Homo sapiens: one gene and its partner. The protein of the gene in region 2 interacts with the protein of the main gene of each other region in a pairwise test. Each region holds a gene or a part of one and is shown on either strand. Other genes may lie near its edges.

What was found.
Region 1: the proteins of CABP5 (region 2) and PAX4 interact in a two-hybrid assay, tested with the Homo sapiens proteins (one large-scale study listed by BioGRID).

Annotation. Positions count from the first base shown.
Region 1 is NC_000007.14:127,609,743-127,612,748, reverse strand, and holds the end of PAX4 (paired box protein Pax-4), read left to right. Parts: intron 1-748; coding exon 749-804; intron 805-1,072; coding exon 1,073-1,214; intron 1,215-1,542; coding exon 1,543-1,685; 3' UTR 1,686-1,763; coding exon of another isoform or gene 1,764-1,897; 3' UTR 1,898-2,457; downstream 2,458-3,006.
Region 2 is NC_000019.10:48,031,222-48,034,149, forward strand, and holds part of CABP5 (calcium-binding protein 5), read right to left. Parts: intron 1-2,928. UniProt on the Homo sapiens protein: Inhibits calcium-dependent inactivation of L-type calcium channel and shifts voltage dependence of activation to more depolarized membrane potentials. Involved in the transmission of light signals.

The DNA of each region.
Region 1 (3,006 bases), on a different chromosome or scaffold from region 2:
ATCCATCCACCCATGTATCCATCCATCCATTCATCCATTCATCTATCCATCCATCCATTCATCCAGGCATCATCCACCCACCACACCCACCCATCCACCCAGCTACCCATTTATCCACCCATCTATCCATGCATCCATCTCTCCATCCATCCATTTATCCATCCACCCATCTATCCATCCATCCAGCCAGCCAGTCACCCACCCATCTGCTCACCCACCTATCTACCTATCCATTTATCCATCCATCCATCCATCCATCCATCCATCCATCCATCCATCCACCCATTCATTCATGCATCCATCCATGCATCTGCTCATGCATTCATCCATCCATCCACCCATGCATCCGCCCATGCATCCATCCAGCCACCCATGCACCCATGCATCCATCCATCCATCCATCTTTCCATTAATCTGTGCATCCATCCACCCATCCATCCAATATTTACTCAGCATCTCCCCAGTGCCAGACCCTGTGCTAGATGCTGGGCACACACAGTCCCGGATCTTAAGGCTGCACTGTCCCCAGTACCATCACTGGAATTTAATCATTCTTCTCCAGTTTCCCAAGGACCTGTCTTGGGGAAGAGGACAGTTTTGGGTTAAAATATCCATCTCTTCACACCCCTGCAAGAAGTGGCTGACTTTCCTAGAACCTCTTTGTATCCAACCTTCCTGCCTCTCACCACACTCCTCCCGTCCCTAACCCCAATTCCTCCTTCTGAGTGGATTCACTCTCATTTTATAGGTGCTTCCCAGGGGCTGACTGTACCAAGGGTTGCCCCAGGAATCATCTCTGCACAGGTACTCGGGAGGAGAGGGGAGTCTGTGCCCTGGGAAGACTGAAGGGCTCATGGGCTCTTCCATTTCTGGCCTGAGCCAGGATCTCCGGCTCTCCAGGGCCCCACAGTGTTCATGTCAAGAAAGTACTAACCCAAAGTCTACTATGTGAATGGTGCCCTCTGGAGTTGTGCAGGATACTACTTGGGTGGCAGGCAGCTCTGGGGTCCCGGCGTTCTCTACAGGAGGCATCACTGGAAGCTAAGGTTCTTCTCTTGCTTTTTTTTTTTAGCAGTCCCCTGGCAGTGTGCCCACAGCAGCCCTGCCTGCCCTGGAACCACTGGGTCCCTCCTGCTATCAGCTGTGCTGGGCAACAGCACCAGAAAGGTGTCTGAGTGACACCCCACCTAAAGCCTGTCTCAAGCCCTGCTGGGGTAAGAATTCAGGCCAGGCCTCAGTCCTGCAGGATGTAGGGAGGGTCGACTGACTCAACCTCCAGGAGGGCATGGATCTCCATTGGGGGTCATCAAAGGAATCTCAATACAGCTTTCCTCATTCTTTGCATGGTCCACAAAATTACGGAGACTAGTAACCCCTGAGTCTATGGTATCACTGACAGCCATAGCAGGTAAAGGATGTGAGACTGGGATTCAAGTGTGTATATGCAGGGTGGGAAACTGATGTCTCAGCCTCTCTCCCATAGTGACTTTGAGAGGTGGGGTGGGAGCAATAACCCCAAGCTCTCTCTATTTGTCCCCACAGGCCACTTGCCCCCACAGCCGAATTCCCTGGACTCAGGACTGCTTTGCCTTCCTTGCCCTTCCTCCCACTGTCACCTGGCCAGTCTTAGTGGCTCTCAGGCCCTGCTCTGGCCTGGCTGCCCACTACTGTATGGCTTGGAATGAGGCAGGAGTGGGAAGGAGATGGCATAGAGAAGATCTAATACCATCCTGCCCATTGTCCTTACCGTCCTGCCCATACAGACTGTGGCTCCTTCCTCCTTCCTGTGATTGCTCCCTCCTGTGTGGACGTTGCCTGGCCCTGCCTCGATGCCTCTCTGGCGCATCACCTGATTGGAGGGGCTGGTAAAGCAACACCCACCCACTTCTCACACTAGCCTTAAGAGGCCTCCACTCAGCAGTAATAAAAGCTGTTTTTATTAGCAGTAGTTCTGTTGTCCATCATGTTTTCCCTATGAGCACCCCTATGCCCACTCTAATATTCAACAATTATAGACAATTTGCCCTATCATTTATTTACATCTATGTATCTACCATCTAATCTATGCATGTATGTAGGCAATACATGTATCTAAACAATGTATTTGTCAATGCATCAATTTACCTACTCTATGTATGCATCTATATGTGTATTATGTATGCGTGCATGCGTGCGCGCACACACACACACACACACACACACTGACATTATATCATGGCATTTTATTCCTAAATCTTCCAGCATGCATCCCCAAAAAACAAGAAACTTGTCTTACATAATCACAATAATATATCCACATCTAAGAAAATTTACTGTAACTTCTTAATCTAAGAAAATTATGTATTTTTGTCATATGTATTTTGTCATATGTATTTTGTATTTGCATATGTATTTTGTATTTGCATATGTATTTTTGTCATAGCAGCAAACAGAGTGAAATGCCATTTTTCATATTCTGCTTTCCATTTATATGTGCTTTATTTATACATGCTCCAGGGGCATGTTTGCTTGGTCCTTTTGGCAGTAAGTTCCAAACCTTCTCAATTCTGTCCCTTCAAATAAAGGTCTAGGCCCTTCCTGAGAAGTCTCAGGATGTGGAGAAAGGGAGGAATATGGGGGAAAGGCGGTGAAGAATCGGATATTCAGCAAGGAGGATAGGCTCATCCTTCCAAATTCTTTCCCTTTTGAAAGTCAGGCGATGGATAATGATGGTGCAATGCTGGTCGGCGGGCGGGGAGGTGGGGGCATTGTTTACTCCTATCTGGGATAGGTACTGATCCAGAAGACGTCATTCAAGAGGCCTCTTCATTATCAAATACTGTGCTGTGCTGAACTGTGCTGTTAAATAAGTAGCCACCAACCACATGTGACTATTTAAATGTAATTCACATTAAAAAAAAAAGAAGAATGCAGTTCTTCACTCACATTAGCCACATTTCAAATGCTCAGTAGTTACATGTGGCTTGTAAGGACTATCGAGCATTTCAGTCATTGCAGAAAGTTCTA
Region 2 (2,928 bases):
CAAAACAGATTAAGTATCCCATAAACAGCTATTGTTGGCCGGGCGCGGTGGCTCATAACTGTAATCCCAGCACTTTGGGACGTCAGGGAGGGTGGATCACTTGAGGTCAAGAGTTTGAGACTGGCCTGGCTAACATGGTGAAACCCCGTCTCTACTAAAAATACAAAAATTAGCTAGGCGTGGTGGCGGGCGCCTGTAATCCCAGCTACTCCACAGGCTGAGGCAGGAGAATTGCTTGAACCCAGGAGGTGGAGGTTGCAGTGAGCCAAGGTTGCACCACTGTAGTGCAGCCTGGGTGACGGAGTGAGACTCCATCTAAAAAACAAAACCCAAAAAACCTGTGATTGTCACTATGAGATTTCATCATCTCAACCATCCTGGAGGGATAAGTGTCACTTTACAGATAAGGAAACTTACGCCAGCGAGGGTCACCAACATACCTGAGGCCACGTGGATAGTGAATGGTGAACCCTGGAAGGAATGCAGGTTGCACCTGACTTTGCTGTGGCTCAAGACGATCTTGCTGCCCACCCGGGTCTTGAGGTCATCCTGACCTTCCCTTGCCTTTGGTTGGCCTGAGGATCATCTCCCACCCCCACCCCACCTTCTCCAGATGTCACTTGATGTCCACTGCACACCTAATCCTGGCTAGATCTAGCAGGTGTCCAACCAGCCTCTACTGTGTTTCCATACTGGGACATACAGCATATATGGTTTAGAGAATGGCCCTTCCTCCTCTCTATCTAGGATGGAGGCCTTGGAAGCTAATACAACTCAACACAGCAAGGTCTGCTGTGATAACTTCCATGGAGAGGAACAGAAAAACTTCTGTAAGACTTCACAGCTGGGAGGAAGACATGAGGGAAGGATGGAGAGAAGCTTCCTGACAAAGGTTGCCTTGATGTGAGTTCCTGAGGGATGGATGAGACTGAAAGATGTGGTAAGTGGACGGAGCATCTGATGCCTAGGAACGGAGGTTGGAGAACATAAAGCAGGCACCAAGTTTGTGCCAGAACTTAAAAGTTCAGAGAATAGCTACAGAAGATACAGGCTGGGTGGGTGGGCGAGGCCAGATGATGGATAGACTTGCATATCAGACAAATAATTTTGGACTTTTTTTTTTTTTTTCTGGAGACGGAGTCTCGCTCTGTCACCCAGGCTGGAGTGCAGTGGGGCGATCTCACTGCAACCTCCGCCTCCCAAGTTCAAGCAATTCTCCTGCCTCAGCCTCCCAAGTAGCTGGGACTACAGGCACATGCCACCACCCCTGGCTAACTTTTTGTATTTCAGTAGAGATGGGTTTCACGGTGTTGCCCAGTCTGGTCTTGAACTCCTGAGCTCAGGCAATCTGCCTGCCTTAGCTTCACAAAGTGCTAGGATTACAGGTGTGAGCCACGCGCCTGGCCTTTTTTTCTTTTTTTCTTTTTTTGAGATGGAGTCTCACTGTTGCCCGGGCTGGAGTGCAGTGGTGTGACCTCGGCTCACTGCAGCCTCCACCTCCTGGGTTCAAGCAATTCTCCTGCCTCAGCCCCCGTATAGCCTGGGACTACAGGCGTGCACTGTCACTCCTAGCTAATTTGTATATTTTTAGTAGAGATGGGGTTTCACCACGTTGGCCCCCCTGGTCTCGAACTCCTGACCTCAGGTGATCCGCCAACCTTGGCTTCCCAAAGTGCTGAAATTACAGGCATGAGCCACTGAGCCCGGCCAGAATTTTGGATTTTTGTCCATAAGCAGCAGATAGGTGCTGAGATCTTTGAACCAAAGAATGTCACAATTAGAACTTGACATGCTTTTTTTTTTTTTTTTTTGGACGGAGTGTTGCTCTGGAGTGCAATGGCGCGATCTCAGCTCACTGCAACCTCCGCCCCCAGCGTTCTAGCAATTCTCCTGTCTCAGCCTCCCAAGTAGCTGGGATTACAGGCACCTGCCACCACTTCCGGCTAATTTTTTTGTATTCGTAGTAGAGACAGGATTTCGCCATGTTGGCCAGGCTGGTCTCAAACTACTAACCTCAGGTGATCCACTCGCCTCGGCCTCCCAAAGTGCTGGGATTACAGGCGTGAGCCACCATGTCCGGCCGACATGCCTTCCTATGCCTCACATAAAAAAGAACCCCACGTCTCATCCATGTAGAACCCCAATCCTTTTCACTTATTCAGTGATCCAATATACTCATGCTGGGCTCAGTGCTAGGATTTGGGGATATAGTGATGATGAAGGAATTGGTCCATGGTCTCAGAAGGAAATAGGCAATAAACTCTAGAGATGCCACGAATCCGTATTACTGCAGAAGCAAGCGGGAGGTATTACTGGGGAGCCAGCAGAGGGACACGGAGCCCAGTAAGAGAGGTGGGAGGTACCTTCCAGGAACATAACTAGGAGTTAGCCAGGGGAGAGGGGAAAGGGTATTCCAGACGGAAGGACAACTTGAGCAAAGACAGGGAAGGAAAATTTAAAAATACAGTGGTGCTTTGTGCATGATTTCTTTTAGTTTTCTCCAAAAGGTGTCATCATCCACCTCATTTTACAGATGGGAAAACTGACCCTTAAAGAGAAAAAGGGAGTAGCATAAGCCACATGCTGAGTCAGCGATGATCCTGAATTTGAAGCCCCTGAACCTGACCCCAGAGCTCCAGCTGCTAGCCAGTCCAGTCTCTTTCTGATGGGACAAGTTCTTCCTAGGATAAAAGGTGCCCTGCAAACTAACAAGGAATGGGCAAGGCGGAAGGGCGTCCTGAGCATGGGAAGGAAAGGGCCTTGGCTGAGGTGTTCCTCGGAGCCACCAGAAGTGAGCGACACCCAGCTCTTTGAAATGAATAGCCTGGGAAGAAAGGGACAGAACAAATGCTTCCAAAACCTGCCACCCGCTTCCATTCTCAAACTTGGAGAGGAGTGAGAAGGAGTGGCCAACTTGGAAAATCTGAC